4 separate regions of the Homo sapiens genome follow, and all the other regions are reported to be linked to region 2. Evidence: microRNA targets listed by miRTarBase, many of them from high-throughput screens and not tested one by one. Region 2 holds a microRNA gene; each other region holds the end of a gene's coding sequence.

Region 1 (4,000 bases), not on the chromosome of region 2:
AAAACTGAGGTGATAGCCAGGATTTTCTTCCCAAACTGTGGTCATGGATCCTCTTCCTTTCCTCCAGAGGCAGATGTGGCACTGATATCTTCCTCCATCCTGGGGGCACAGCCTGAGTGTTAGCATTGCAGATGGATACTGACTTGCCCAAAGTCACATAGTGAGTCAGTGCTTGGGGCAGGGCAGGAAGTAGGTCTCCTAACTCCTAGCCCAGGACATGCAATATTTTTTCCACTGACATGCACTATTCTCCTGCTTCCATTTTTTACAGGGGCCTATAGAAACTCTCCTTTTGCTCCGCTTCCTCCTCTCCTTCACAAGTAACGTGGCCCCTCCTCTCCTCCTCTAGATTCTGGCCTGTGCCTTGGCAGCCTCCATCCTTCGCAGGCATCTCATGGTCTGGAAAGTGTTTGCCCCTAAGTGAGTAGATTTGCTTGAGAAGTAGAGGTGGTGGGGAGGGAGAAACTTGGAACAAAGTATGAAGATCCTAAACATCCAGGATGGCCAAGGTTTTGCCTCTACAGGGAAAAGGCAGTAGACCTACTCTGTTGCCTGAGATTCTCCGCCTTTCTTTGCAGGTTCATATTTGAGGCTGTGGGCTTCATTGTGAGCAGCGTGGGACTTCTCCTGGGCATAGCTTTGGTGATGAGAGTGGATGGTGCTGTGAGCTCCTGGTTCAGGCAGCTATTTCTGGCCCAGCAGAGGTAGCCTAGTCTGTGATTACTGGCACTTGGCTACAGAGAGTGCTTGAGAACAGTGTAGCCTGGCCTGTACAGGTACTGGATGATCTGCAAGACAGGCTCAGCCATACTCTTACTATCATGCAGCCAGGGGCCGCTGACATCTAGGACTTCATTATTCTATAATTCAGGACCACAGTGGAGTATGATCCCTAACTCCTGATTTGGATGCATCTGAGGGACAAGGGGGGCGGTCTCCGAAGTGGAATAAAATAGGCCGGGCGTGGTGACTTGCACCTATAATCCCAGCACTTTGGGAGGCAGAGGTGGGAGGATTGCTTGGTCCCAGGAGTTCAAGACCAGCCTGTGGAACATAACAAGACCCCGTCTCTACTATTTAAAAAAAAGTGTAATAAAATGATAATATAATTATGTGTGTCTGAGATGTGGGGGAGCCCCACTGTTCTATAGGGGTTGTGAGGAGGATCAGTCTCTCCTGCCACCAGGCACAGATGAGATCAGTCATCTTAGGAAAGCCTGGCTGCACCTGAGAACCTTTATGAAGTGGTTGGAGTTGTCTGAATTCACTGCCTCCACCTCTTCCCAAATCAATCCTATTATCCCACCGCTATTTTCCTTTGCCATGCAACACATTTTGTTAAGTTCCTGTTCTTTGTCTGATAAAGAGAGAAGACTGAGAAGACAAGCCCAGGCATCATGCAGCACCGACTTTAACTGTCTGAAGCCCCAAATAGTGCTATGCCCCCGCTCCACTGGGCCTTTTCACTATAGAACACCCTTTGCCCTTCCCTTCTGTGGAAGCCTCCCTTGTTTCCCAACCTGTGCCACTCTTTATCAGATCTACATGCCCATCTTATGTAGCATTCCACCTTGTCCCATTCATTATTCCTGACTTGAAGCCAAAATTGTGTGAATCCACTGGTTCTTTTCTCATGTGTATGTTTTGTGCCCTCTGTTCACCCCAGCACTCCTGTCATGTTTGAAATGCTGGCATGAAATCCTCCTAGAGATGTCCATCAAAAGAGTTGGGAAGAGGCCCTGGAGAGAAGCATCAGGACTGGGATTTGAGGTTTGACAGTACCTAGAACAAGAGGAGCTGATACCACTGAAAAACAGAACAGATGTTAAAACCATGGGATAGCACCTACTTTTAGCTGGCATAAAGTAGAGAAGCTGAGTAGTAGTGGTTGTGAAGTATAAACGTTCACTGCTGTGGTAGGTAGCTAAGGGAAGAATTGAAATTATTTTTATTGTTACTATCATTTTAAAGACATATTTTTGCTCTATTGTCCAGGCTGGAGGGCAGTGGTGCAATCATAGCTCCCTGTAGTTTCAAACTCCTGGGCTCAAGTGATCCATCTCAGCCTCCTCAGTATCTGGGACCATGCCTGGCTAATTTTTAAATTTCTGTACAGACAGAGTCTTGCTACATTGCCCAGGCTGTTCGTGAACTCCTGGCCTCAAGCGATCCTTCCACCTTGGCCTCTCAAAGCACTAGGATTACAGGTGTGAGCCACAGCACCTGGCTAAGTTCAGATTATTAATGGCCAGTGGTCCCTAGTGTTACAGATGCCAAATAGTAAGATGATGAAAAGTATGGTTCAGCTGGGTGTGGTGCCTCATGCCTGTAATCTCAGCACTTTGGGGAGCCAAGGCGGGTGGATCACCTGAGGTCAGGAGTTTGAGACCAGCCTGGCCAACATGGCAAAACCCCATCTCTACTAAAAATACAAAAATTAGCCAGGTGTGGTGGTGTGCACCTGTAATTCCGGCTACTCAGGAGGCTGAGGCAGGAGAATCGCTTGAACCTGGGAGGCAGAGGTTACAGTGAGCCAAGATCACGCTACTGCACTCCAGCCTGGGAGACAGAGCCAGACTCTCTCTCAAAAAAAAAAAAAAAAAAAAAGGGATAGGTTGTTAACCATGGTAGAAAGAGGTTTAATAATGCAAGGGGGTGAAGTTGGCCCCAGCTGGCCTGTAAGATGAATTAGAAAAACGCTTCTCCCCAAGTCTGGTGGACACAACTCCCAAGCATAGTTCGGTGAGCAAATGGTGTCTTTTTGAGAAAGGGGAAAAAAACCAAAACAAAAACCTTTCCTCCATCCCTAGCACCCATGGAAGGATTTTAGGCCCTAGTTCCTCCACTTCTCAGCCAGGTACCCTGCACTTTTTGCAGTAGCCTCCTTGCCTGGAGCCTAAGGCTAATTTGCTGATCTGCCAACCACTGTCTATTCTTTCTCCTGGTGTATCTATAAGATTCTATTAGATAAAGACATTAGTACATTGATTTACGCTATTAAAAATTATTTCTAGCCAGGCACTGTGGCATGTCCCTATAGTCCCAGCTACTTGGGAGGCAGAGGTGGGAGGATCACTTGAGGATAGCAAGACTCCGTCTCTACAAAAATAAAAAAATTAGCCAGGCATGGTCCCAGCTATGTAGAGGCTGAGGTGGATCACTTGAGCCCAGGAGTTAGAGGCTGTAGTGCACAATGAATGCACCTGTGAATAGCCACTGCACTCCAGCCTGGGCAACATAGATCCTCTCTCTTTTAAAAAGAAAAATTATCTTATCCCTCCCTTTTCCTTGAAATCAGAGTCCATTCCACACTAACTCAATGATTCTTTTTTTTTTTCCTTTAATTTTTTGTAGAGGTGGGGGTCTTGCTGTCTTGCCTAGGCTGGTCTTGAACTCCTGGCCTCAAGCCATCCTCCTGCCTCGACCTCCTCAAGTGTTGGGATTGCAGGTGTGAGCCATTGCACCCAGCCCTGATTCTTTTTTAAAAAAGCTTTATTGAAATGCAATTTACCATAAAATTTACCCATGTAAGGTGTAAGATTTAATGGTTTTTGTGTATTTACAGAATTGTACAACCATCACCAGAATCAATTTTAGAACATTTTCACCAACCCCAAAAGAAAATCTACTGTTTAGATATCACCCTCCAATCCTCCCCAACCCCTGGCTAGCACTAATCTGCTGTTTCTCTATATATTTGCCCATTTTGGATATTTCACAGAAATGGGATCATAATAATATGTGGTCTTTTGTGACTGGCATCTTCCACTTAGTATAATGTTTTCCGGTTTCATCTATATAGCAGCACACAGCAGTACTTCATTCTTTTTCTTTTTTAAAATTGAAGTAAAATTCATATAAAATTCACCATTTTAAAGTGTATAATTTAGTGGCCGTTAGTACATTCACAACGTTGTACAATTATCATCATTATCAATTCCAGAATGTTTTCATTACCCCAAAAAGAAACCCTGTACCCTTAAGCAGTCATTCCTTCTCT
Region 2 (4,149 bases):
AGAGCTAATGAATCTGTGGGTTTGCTTTCAAAAATAGCGTCATTCAATCCGCTTCCTCTCCTTTATGTTAAATTACTTCAGTTGCACAACTAGACACCTGACCACCTATTGATTTTATTAGAACTTTAAACTGGTTTACTGCAAACAGATACCATACTTTGTTTCCCCCAAATTTGCCTCATTTCCATAAGGGACTAGAAAAAAACAAAATTAGCAAGGAGCAAATATTTAGAATTTCAAGAGTTTGATGGGGAATAGGGAAAACTCCACAAGAAAATAAAAGAGATCTGACAATGCCACACAGGCATACGCAGCGGGGTCTTACCACTCTTAGGTATTATTTGACTTTACCTGGGCCCTGTCCAATCTCTAAAGCCCAGCAAATGCCCCAGGTGAGATCCTTCCTCAGAGAACTTTCACAGGAGATATACAGCCTTGAAAAATAAAAGACTGCCATAATTGAGAGGTTTGTGCAAGGAATCCTATCCTAGCACTTTCTTCACTGAAGAGCATTTTGGGAGCTTTTCTGTGCGGAAAACGAGGAGTTCTAGAGAATGCATTATAGTTATTGAATGCCTACAAGTATAACCACAATTTTACTTGACTCTTGAGCCAGGTGCAAGAAAGAGAACCTCTTCCACCTGTCAAGGAAATCACAAACTAGGTGAGAAAGGAGTAGTAGTCATAATAATAGCAATAATAATAACATCAACATAATAAGAGTTGTCATTGTGTTTGCTGCTGTGTTTCTGGTGCCAGGACATAAATGTCTGCTCATGGGTGTCATAATTTTCACAAGACTTTAGATACTGTTTTTGTCCTCATCTTACAGTTGAAGCAACTAAGGCCAAGAGAGGTTTAATAACTTGCCTGTATCAGCTAGCTAGTAAGTGGCAGAGCCAGGTTCCAAAGGCAGAAGATTTGGTCCAGTGGGCCTGCCCGCTCTTGATCACAGGGCCACACTGCTTCTCAAAGACATTGTGTTGGTCCATTCAGGCTACTGTCACAGCGTACCTTAGACGGGGTAATTTGTAAATAACAAAAATTTGTTGCTCACAGTTCTGGAGGCTGGGAAGTCCAAAATCAAGGCACCAGCAAATGTGGTGCCTGGCAAAGGCTCACTTCCTGCTCCATAGATGATGCCTTCTTGCGTCCTCACATGGTGGAAGGGACTAATAAGCTCCCTTGGACCTCTTTTATAACTTCAGTAACCCTATTCATTACAGCAGAATCTTCATGACCTAATCCTCTCCCTTCAAAGGCTCCACCTCTTAATATTTTATTGCACTGGGGACTATATTTCAGCATATGAATTTGGTGGGGAGACACAAACATTCAGACCATAGATGAAGACCTTGACACTGCTCATGGAGACCTATAAAAAGGATTTGGGGTTCATAGAGAAGAGAGTGACTTGTGGGAGAGTTAAGAAGGACTTTTCAAGCAAGACGGCATTTCAGGAGACACAAGGTGGTCAGTCTAACAGTAGAAAATGAAATCAGCAGTAGAAAACAACATGGAAAATTCTGTTCTTAAATTACCATGTTGGAGAGGGATTTAATATGGCTATGTTTTATGCCAGATTTTTTTAAAAGCCTTTCATGCATAAAACTATAGTGATCTATTTAGATTCATTAAAATATGTGCACATATATATGCATGAATTTCATTATGTGGATATGTAAATTAATGTATTGGGTGAGAGATTATGTTTTAGAATATAAACCAAAAACCATGTTGTGATTAACTTTAAAGAACCATCTAGTTTTGGACATTGTGGCAGTTGTTTTTAATATCCACAAATCAGCTGAATTAGGAAACATAAACTATATGTTTGGACTTCATATTTAGAGCTATATGAGGTCAGCCTCTTCCTCCAGAGGCACTGCCAGATGATAGTTGCTTGCATGGGGCAACAGTCCAATGAAACAATTAATCCAAATCTCATTCAGAGATGAGAAGCAACTTATTTCATTCACTCATTCATTCATTTTCACATACTCATTGACTTCTATTCAGCAAATATTTTTCAGGTAGTTCATAAGCCCTGTAGTTGACTGTGTGGTGGCCTGGCCAAGGGGCATATTAGCCAGAGTAGAAGAGGCAAGAGCTGGGTCTTAGTGGCCAGGCTGAAGGGATAAAGTGTGAGGTTGGCCCTTGCAGAAGAAAGTGATTGGACATCATTCCAGAGTAGAGTGCCCAAAGGAAAGAACCAAAGCATCCCTGATCCAGGCCACTGTTGATGTCAAAAGGGGTGGGGCTTTTGGCATCTCATAGGGCGTTCCCAGTCGTGACACATTATAGTTCTGAATGGTTCACATAATTAAGGCATTGATTCGTTCCTTAAATGAATCAGAGGAAGGGAGATGGAAATGATTAGACAGGTTGTTTTATTTGCAGTCACATTAGCAATAGGGTTCAGGAAGGGCTCCCATTCTGATGGGAGCTTTGGATTGCAGAAACTCTTCCCCGTGAGCCCAGCATCGATCACAGAGCTTGGAAATACAAACTAGAGTTTCATGAGCAATGGGGAATCAGAGCTTCTTTTAGGATACTTGATACTGAGTGTGCAGCAACACACTTTGATTGGCAGCAGCCTCCCTTCCACAGTTGCCAGGCCTACTCTGTTCTAGGCACTGAGTGTACATTATCTAATTATCATAGCAACCCAGCAAGGTTGATGCCATTATCCCATTTTACAGATGAAGAGACTTAGCCCATAAGTGAGAGAACCAGGTTTCAAATCCAGAGTTCTGTGACCCCAAAGCCCACATTCTTCCTAGTTTACTATGCTACTTCTCCTGAGCCATTCTGAGCCTCAATCACTTGCCAGAGAGATTGGTTCAGGAATTTGTCAGGGATAGCCTGAAGTCCCAAAGTCTTCAGCCAGCATCTGAGCAGTGTTAGAAAAGGCTGAGACTCACACGATGCTATATGCTGTGGGAAATGTAATAGACATGAACGATTATCCTAGTCACTATTAACCAAATGCTGGATAACATGGAGCACATAGTGACATTCAACAGAGTTACATTCTCTGCCTTCTAGGATCTTGCAACCCAAGGTGCATATTTACTTGCTTGAATATTGAGCTGTGAGAAGAAAAGTTGCTACGTTTGTGCAAGTTCTATTTATTATGGATGCTAAATTCCTATAAGTTAGCTGAACCATCCCTAGAATAAAGTACTTTATTTTAGCCCAAGTGCCAACTGACTGACTGACTGACTGAATGAATGAATGAATGAATGAAGGCATGCTTGCTTGCTCTTATAGATTAACTCTCTTGCTATGGGTAAACCAAAAGAAAAAAAATATTTTTCCTTACCCCTTAAAGTGAGTCTACTTTGTTTTGTGGGAGGTAGCAATTTATAGACCTGTCTACACATTATTTTCTAAAACTCAAGTATTTTGGAAGAGCAGATGGGGTACCATACTGTATACACTAATCATATATTTTGAAATGTATTTCTTTTTGAGCAGTTTGGTGACGCTTTATTTAGCAAAAGCCCTTGAAAGTTTCAAAAGCAACAATCCAAAGAACATGAGTGGCTGAGAGCACAGCGGACAGACAGACCCTCCAGCACAAGGCTAATGCTTTTCAAAATGTACTGTGGACCCTGGCCCTGGCCCCTATTCCTCCTGCCCTTAGAGATGATGATACACATTGTCACTGGGGGAGGGAACGAGTGGATTGGGCCTGATTATCTGAATTTTCTGTGAATCCCCTGGGTGACTGTGATATGCACCCAGGGTGGAGAACTAGCCTTCTACACTCATATCTGAGTGCTACTCTTCTTACCTCATTCTCTTGAGACTCATATTTTCACTTATAAAATTATTAGAGAAGCAAAAGAAAACCCCATCCCTTTTACATTTTCTGAGAGCCACAGGGGGAGCAAATAGGTGTTGAGCACCTCCTACATTGCCAGAAGTTTGACTTATAGATCTGGTTTAATCTGTACAAGAACTCAACAATGTTTAAAGAATTAATTGGCCCTCAGATATGGAGTTGAGTTATGCATACTGCTCAGTTCATAGCTTATTGTCACCCTAAGGCCATGCAAGACCCTCCTCTTATTTTGTTATTGTTCCTCTTCACCCCCCATTCCCTACACCCATTTCCTTCCCTCCTCAGAGAACCACCTAATA
Region 3 (4,000 bases), not on the chromosome of region 2:
TATCTCAAAGTATTAAAGAGGATCTAAACCCTACATCAATCTAAAGCATTTAGACAAATGCATTTTTAGACAAAAGCATTTAGACAAATTTCATTTGTCTACAACATGGAAAAAACAAGTTAAGAAGTAGAGCACCTTTCAGCCCTTACTACATTCTAAAACAAACTTGTAAATGCTTTCAAACTGACTTATGCTCTTACTCTCAACTCACAGAAAAATGGAGTCCAATCACATTTCCATGTGAAAACACAAAATTAGGTTAACAGAACAGTCATCCTTGACATAGTAATACTCTGACAATACAATTAAGGGGACATCTTCTAATGGCATTTGTTCTTAACATGGAAAAACAATTTCTTGCATATTTTCTAATCATAGTGTATATACAGATGTAAATACAGAGTCAATGTGTGCAATGATGCTGACAAGGCATCAAGCATGTTTTAGAGTATACCGGCAATGAGAGATTTCAATTACTTTATATTCCTGCCTTCTCAGTCTGTACACATATTATCATTTACAGGATAGTCACATACTATACAGAATTGAAAGATGCCAATTTTTGCTATCAAAAGTGCTGAAGTTATAATTTCCTAATACAGACTATTGAAATGCACAGAAAGACTACAATAGGCAATCTATAGCAGGGCTAACAAAGTATTTCTATATCTCATGTCTATTAATTACCCTTCCTCCATCTTATATAATATTCCATCTTCAGTAATGAACTTTTATCTAATTAAGAAATCCCCCAGTTTATAAAATCTGAGGGCAATTTCCAGTGAACTTTGTCAGGATAGAGGAACCAAATGACCACAGGTATTACTGAGTTATAATAAGAAGGAGTAACCAATTAATCAGTATTATAACAACAAAATTGCTGCAAGGCAATAGGCTTCTGTAATTAAACATAAATCACAAAGGTATGGATTCAGGCATCAAAATAGTGACGTGATTTCACTGAGTATCAACTAGTATTTGCAAAGCTACTTGAATTTTTCTGTTGATCTTCACTTGTTGTTAAATAATGATAGTTTTGATGGTGGTAAAACTTCATTTTTCAAGTGCAGGATGATCTGAGCTGAATGAGAAAAAAAGTAATTAAGGGAGGGAATAAAGGTAGGCCTGGCATCAGTTTGAACAATATATTTTTTTCTTCTGTTTTTGATCGTAAGAGGGCTTATATCTCCAAGGTTACCACAATAAAGTCATAACCATGCCAGCCATTTTAAGGATTTCAGGATTAATCAAGACCAAGAAAGATGAAATGATGAATTACAAACCAAGCCATCACTACTACAAAGTTCCATGAGTGATAATTCTGTTACCCATATCCCAGGCAGCAATATGTTTAAATTACAAAGACAGTGACATATATATTGTCAAAAAATTTTACTGTTACTTATTATTTAAATTTAAAAATTTTATAATTTTACATTTTGTAATTATTTATTTAAAAGTGGCATATTTTATTAAAAGGAACACTGGAAATATGGATACTTTTTGAGAAGTAATCTTCATCTTCACTTGTAGATATTATGGAGAAACCAGATTTCTACATCAACTAATGGAAAATTAACCACTTATGAGCCTAGTTCCAATTCAAATAAAGGACATACATACAAATGTTAGGACTGATTCTGTCCATTCAGTTAAAATATTTCCATTCCTGAATTATTAGCTACTGAAATTCTAAAAATGCTCATTTTTCTGGGTATCTTAACTTAAAAGATTTATTAGCTGTTCAGATGCTGTTTATATTAATTGACATTTACAAAGAGCATAGAGACCAAAGACAATATACACTATAGTATGTAAGACCTTTATCTCCTTCTAAATGCTCTAAGCAAACTATAAAATTTAGTAATTCTATTTAGATCTTCTTAGATAACTTGCAGGTGTCTTGAGTGTCTCAGTCTGCTTTCTCTCTTCAAATTTTTTCCATTCTAAACAGCATTTTTTGCCTCCTAGTAATAATCCTGTAGAATTTTAAAAACAGACAAAAAAACACCAAACCCAGATTCTATGCTTTATTCATTTTGCATTAAGATGACCAAAGAAATAAAACCTAAATAAAATAAACATAAAATCATTTTTCCCTATTTAAATACTGATAATTTCTATTAACCCTATTTTTAATTTAGGGAGTTTTATATTCATATTGTCAAGATATCCAGTGCACAAGTTTCTGCAGAATCACTAATTTTATTATAAAGCTTCCTCTCCCCACACCTTAGGGGACAATGTATTTTCACTCTGACTTGTTTAAAAGACACAAGGAGGTTGGCATATTTTAAAGTTAACACATTTTTTCATTATAAAAACAGGCTTAGGTTAATGGTCACTCTCTAGCATTTGGTTACCGACTGACTGATTATCATATGTGTGCGTGTGTGTGTGTGTGTGTGTGTGTGTTTGTGTGTATATATATATATATATATATATATATATATATATATATATATACACATAGGTTCCTGACTTTCTACTACTCATTACTGTTGGCTGATGCAAAATTTGATTGTGCAACATACATCTCCTCAAGGATGAACAGGAAATGCAAAGATATAAAATTCAAAGTATTAATAGATGGTTTTGCTACTTTTTGTACTTTTGGTAAATGAGATAGTTGGAAGTTAGAGGCTATTAACTAAAATAAAATTAAGGAGTAAGTAAGTTACCTGTAAATTTCATTTACTCACATTAGGACTGACTGGTCTCTCTTTATTGGAGTTTAACAGAAAACAGACTGGACCATGACTGGCAGCTATATATTGGTCATTTTCAAATACTCCAATGACACTCTTCAATAACTTTATTATCTCCAGTTTTATGATGCCATACCATGTTTTTTCACACTGTTTAAAAATTTCCATTTCCATAATCCAATGCCAAAAAAATTACTACACATTCTCTTACACAGTCAAAAATATATTTACTGGAATGTTTTTAGTTATACCTGAGGGCAACAACATTTACAACATTTAGCTTTTGTTACACCTATAAATGTGGAAATTGCTTGCAAAACAACTGTAATATGAAAGGAACTATATTTCTGCAAATATTGACAGAATGGTTATGCATCTCTTTCAGCATATAATTTGGTACTCTACACAGGCTTCCTGACCCCCAGCATGACCCGCTCCCTAATGCAATAATGCAAGTCCTTATGCCATTAAAATATTAATATGAAATATTATAATCAGTGTTTATATACACAAATAATGAACTGGCAAGTATCTAGTTTCAAATTAGATCCTTGAAATATGGAAAAATAGAGGCTAGTTCTCTTTGCCTTAAACATAATTATTAAAAGAACATTTTGTTAGAAAGGGAGAAGATAATTGGACATTCTCAACGTTCCAATTTGAAGTGATACTTGCCTCTTAGTTTCTTGAAAAAGAAGTTTTGAAAGTTATATACACATAGGTTTCATTTAAATTATGCAGCAATCTTTTATTACTGTCCCAGATCTTGTTTAATGAAGATCTCTGTCATCAAATCAAGTACGGTATTTCATGACTATAAGAACTGTAAGAGAAAACATGAAAAAAGCAATATATCAACATCAGATATATATGCTATGTTTGAAGCAATATTCCTAAATGTAGTTGTGTCTACTTTTAGAAATGGGTAATGAGGATTGACTGAACTTTTATCTGAGGTAATAAATAATCAATGGGAAAGGAGAAGCAAAAAATATCATAAAACAACCTAAATGTCTAACATTGGCATCTTAAATAAATAATGGCATAGCCATAGCTTGTATCTGCTGTTAAAATATTACTAAAAATTTTGATAACCTGGGATAATAGTCACAATATATTTATTAGAAAGTACATATAATATAGTCTTAGTTTTTTAAAAAACATGCTTGTATATTAATAGGAAAAGAGAAGTATATATAATAGTTATATTAGTAGCTATCTCTACTAATTGTAAGATTATAGTTGAATTTTTCTTCTTTTTGTTATTAATATTTCACATTTTCCAATTGCTC
Region 4 (4,000 bases), not on the chromosome of region 2:
CACACATTTATTCTCTTACAGTTGTAGAGGTCAGAAGTATGAAATCAGCTTCACTAAGCTAAAATCAAGGGGCCAGCCAGCCTGTGTTCCTTCTGGGGGCTCTAGGAGAGAATCCAGTTCCTTGATTTTCCAGCTTCCAGAGGCTGCCTGGATTTCTTGACCAGTGGCCCCTTACACTAACTTCAAAGTACATCACTCCAACCTCGCTTCTGTCATCCCGTCTCCTCTCTCTGACTCTGACCTGGCTGCCTCTCTTATATAAGGACGCTTGTGATTACACCGGGCCCACCTGGATGACCCAGGATAATCCTCTTATCTCAAGATCCTTAATCACGTCTGCAGAGTCCCTTTTACCATGTAATGTAATATAAATATTCGCAAGATCCAGAAATTAGGACTTGTACATCTTTGGAGGACCACTATTCAGCCTTCCATAGCTACCTAGAAATAGGATGACTTAGTTAAAGGAGATGTGTATTTTACATTTAAATCACCATCTACAAATTGTATCTATTTGATATGAACACTCGCATTAACACTGCTGGCACTGGCTTTTTGGAGGGCAATGGACAACACTAATTAAGGTTCAAAGTCTTCACTGTTTCCTGCCTTCCCTACATTGCAAGACAGGGTTGGAGATTTTCCTCTCATTAATCTTTCACTAAATTGTCTTACCCTGAAAGAAAAAAAAGTCAGTATCTTCAGGAGGGATCTAGGAAAATAGAACTGGGAATTTTGACCAAAAATTTAGAGTGAGAAGTTGGCTTCCAGTAGGAGTAGGCGGGGGGGTTGTCTGAGCGGGAGTGGAGGTGAGGTGGCCGGGGGGAACATCCAGGCATGCTGGGACTCCCACAGTAGGGTGTGATCACCAGGAGCTATGGCCATCTGAGAGGACACAGTGGGAGTACAGCAGGAGGGCTGGAGAACTGCTGCCAACTGGAGCCAAGGAGGGCCAGGCTACTGAAACTGTGTCACCAACAATGGGTCAGATGTGGGGAACAGGTGTCTGAAAGCCTGGAGCCACCCTCCCGAATTGAGACTGCAGAAAGACATTTAGGCCAAGGCTGGCTGACTTAACCTGGTGCCCTCTGCCTCTGTCTATGCAACAGCTGATGAGGAGTGGCCTGTTCAAAAGCTGCTTTCCCGTAACTGGACACAAACAGATGGGAAGGGTGATGAGGTGAGGAATGAACAGCCAGGGATACTATATAGCCAGCAATGGCTATAAAAACTTCCTTATGTCTTAGTCAAAACATCTTGCCATATAATAGAACCAGGATTTTGAACCTAGTTCACTTTAACAGCCATGTTCTGTTTAAAGTCATGTTCTGCTGAAATCAGAGTTCAAAATTCTGAAAACTATTGATTTAGGGAGTGTGTATAGCTAAGGAGATAACTGACTACAAGCCATGGATCATCATCCCTGATAGAGAAGTTTGGAAGCCTTGTCCCACCCCATCTCTGGCTGTAATAATGAGAAATTAAGAAGTGTGATGTATGCATTTAAGACTATAAATGTTTCTCTAAGTACTGCATTAGCTGCATCTCACAGGTTAATGTGTCATAATTTCAAAATCACCCAGATCAAAATGTTGTCCAATTTCCTTTCTGATTTCTTATTTGAGCCATTGATTATTTAGAAATGTGCTGCTTACAAAGCCATAAAGCTTCATTAGGAAAAGACTCAGGGTCCATGTTAGCAGACAGATGCACCATAAGAAGAGCTTACTTATGAAATAAAAGCCAAGCCTTCCAAGTGTTCGTTCAAAAAAAGATGTTCTACCCTCTCTAGGCAGGGTGAAGCTCTTGCACTGTAAGCACTGACTCCTCTAGGAGTTTGCCCTATTACTGAGGGGTACTTTCCTAGCCCCCCTCCTTCTCCTTCCCACATGGGACAACCCAGGAAAGCACCCTCCCATTTGCTCCTTAGGTGTACCAACAGTCCTTCGCAGGTGAAGTGTCACTGAGAGCCTGTCCCTGGGTGCTCCTTAATCCTACCACAGCTGACATGGCTGCAAAAACATACTGAGCTCATTGGGAGAACAACAAGGAAAGAAATACAGAAATGTTAAGAGGCCAATATGAAACCTACTCTCTGGGTCTGCCCCACCCACATCTCCTGTAAGAAGCGTCTGTCTCTGGGCCCACAGAACCAGGATCACTCCTCAGTCCCTCTCCTGGGTGCCAGCTCCCCAGCTCCCAATGTCCTCTTCCTTCTCCTCATCCCCTTCCTCTAGAAGCCAGTCTCCAGTCCATTCAATTCCAACCAGCAGACACCCACCAATGGTTCTGCTGTGAGTGGGGCATAGTGCTGGGACGGATGGGGCAGAAGCAGTGCTGATGTTCAGGGCCACAAAATAGAGTCTTCTCTTCACAGTGGACACTCCTTCAAGTTCGAAGTAAACCTGGCTCCCTCAGAGATGCTCAGAGGCCTGAAGTCATCCTGTGGTTTATTGATGAATAAACAGAACACAAACATGGGCACAAAGAGGCTTGGAAACAGCAGGGTCCATCTTGGCACAGCCTCCTCACCTCAAGGGGCATCCAGCCACATCTTCAGACACACAGGGCAGTGCTGGGGCCTGCACAACCTTATGTTCATGCCCTTCGGTTCCACGTGGCACAAAGTGGCACAGGGGGTGGGAGACTTGCAGAGTGGGGTGTGGAAGGGGACGCTGGCCCTGGCTTTAGGGGACGCTCTGGTTCAGTGACAAGGATCTCACAAGTGCTCAGGGAGGCTGGGGCTGTGTTTTCCACTGACACCAACAGACACTCTCTTGCTAAACAGTCCCATGGAGCACAGAGACTGGCACTGGCTGAGCCACACAACCCATAATCAGGCTCCTCTGAGCCCGACTCTGTCATGGCCTTGGAGAAAAGGCACACTGCAAAGCCTGGAGCTGCATTTGCAGGCTGAAGGTACCCCCTCAGCAACCTAGGGCCTTGAAGGCATGGGCTGTCAACCAGCATCCTAGATAAGTAGTGCTGGGCCCTCACTGAGGGTTTCACTCCCCCAGCACCGCCTCACAAGGCCGGCCTGCCTGCTGGGAAGGTTGCCTTGGGGTAAGGGTACAGGCTTAGGTCTTCCAAATCCTTTCCTGAATTACCATATCAATACCAGGACACCAGGCACCTTTCTTTGGACTACAGGAGATGCGAAGGTCACTGAGCTCACTCTGATTTCACAGATCTTGGTGAGACAACCTGGGCCCTAGAATCCACCATCTTTGTCTTTGGGAACTCCTTCTGGGCAGCCATCTGCAGGCCTGAGTGTTGCAGGTATAGCCCTCTTTCCTTTTACTGTGTCTGGTTTCTTGTGTAGTCAAAAAGGCCAAGAGAATGGGCCACTGCATCCTGCCCCTGTGCTTGGTCTTGGGTCCAGCTGTGGTTCCCATGTAAGCACCATGCACCTTCCCATCTTCCCACAGCTCTCACCCCCTCCACCAAGAGCTGTGGCCAGGGTCACAGAGGTTCAGAGGCTGCTGCCCCTGGACCTAAAGCCCATTTTCCATCTCAAACCAGGGACAGAGGTGAGCTCCCTGAGCCCTCAACTGTGGCACTTTCCCATGTGCGGAAAATGGGGAGCCCAGAAAGGGAGCCAGGATGGGCAGGGGTGACCCTTTCTGGTTACTCCTGTGACCTCTTCCCACCATTCCATGCTCAACACGTGCCAGATTTCTACCACCTTTAATACCCCCATTCACATTGGGCCAGCTGGAAACAGAAAGTGGGGCTGGCAGAGGTGGTCCAGCTAGCCCGGGCCCCCAGGCCTCAGGACCACTGGCAGGCACAGTCGGTGGGCTCCTGCACTGTATAGGGCACCCAGGTGGCATTGGTGGCACAGAAGAGCTGCACAGAGCGCCGCTGCAGGCCCACCTCACGGCAGCACTTGCAGAATCGGGCATAGGTGTTGATGTTGTAGTTGTAGATGCTGGCGGATGGGCACCTCCCATCGCAGGACACTAGGTTCACCTGGAACGGGCAGGCCAGTGAGGCAGTC

The links. Region 2 holds the annotated microRNA hsa-miR-1200 (CUCCUGAGCCAUUCUGAGCCUC, at 2,799-2,820, shown strand). A microRNA usually pairs through its seed, bases 2 to 8, with sites in the 3' UTR of a target mRNA and lowers its output. Matches are read on the target gene's strand: a 7mer-m8 pairs with bases 2 to 8, a 7mer-A1 pairs with bases 2 to 7 and ends in A, and an 8mer does both.
Region 1: miRTarBase lists PIGO as a target of hsa-miR-1200. The part of its 3' UTR that is shown has no 7-base or 8-base seed match.
Region 3: miRTarBase lists VAMP4 as a target of hsa-miR-1200. Seed matches in the 3' UTR shown: 7mer-A1 at 3,120-3,126, 7mer-A1 at 2,475-2,481 and 7mer-A1 at 1,667-1,673.
Region 4: miRTarBase lists OTOG as a target of hsa-miR-1200. The part of its 3' UTR that is shown has no 7-base or 8-base seed match.

What each region holds. Positions count from the first base shown.
Region 1 is chr9:35,085,800-35,089,799 of GRCh38, reverse strand. It overlaps PIGO (phosphatidylinositol glycan anchor biosynthesis class O), which reads left to right. Exons shown (of 11, transcript NM_032634.4): 10 at 350-420; 11 at 579-1,112. The coding sequence ends at 708. Among named protein-coding and RNA genes, the nearest start is that of FANCG, 7.9 kb to the right of the region's middle.
Region 2 is chr7:36,918,074-36,922,222 of GRCh38, reverse strand. MIR1200 (microRNA 1200) reads left to right here and starts at 2,791; the gene lies at 2,791-2,866. All of the region lies in intron 16 of ELMO1 (engulfment and cell motility 1), which reads left to right.
Region 3 is chr1:171,701,004-171,705,003 of GRCh38, forward strand. It overlaps VAMP4 (vesicle associated membrane protein 4), which reads right to left. Exons shown (of 8, transcript NM_003762.5): 8 at 1-3,531. The coding sequence ends at 3,503. Among named protein-coding and RNA genes, the nearest start is that of VAMP4, 39 kb to the right of the region's middle.
Region 4 is chr11:17,645,716-17,649,715 of GRCh38, reverse strand. OTOG (otogelin) reads right to left here. Exons shown (of 56, transcript NM_001292063.2): 56 at 3,672-3,972. The coding sequence ends at 3,772. Among named protein-coding and RNA genes, the nearest start is that of LINC02729, 49 kb to the left of the region's middle. RefSeq lists enhancers at 3,466-3,966, 3,967-4,000.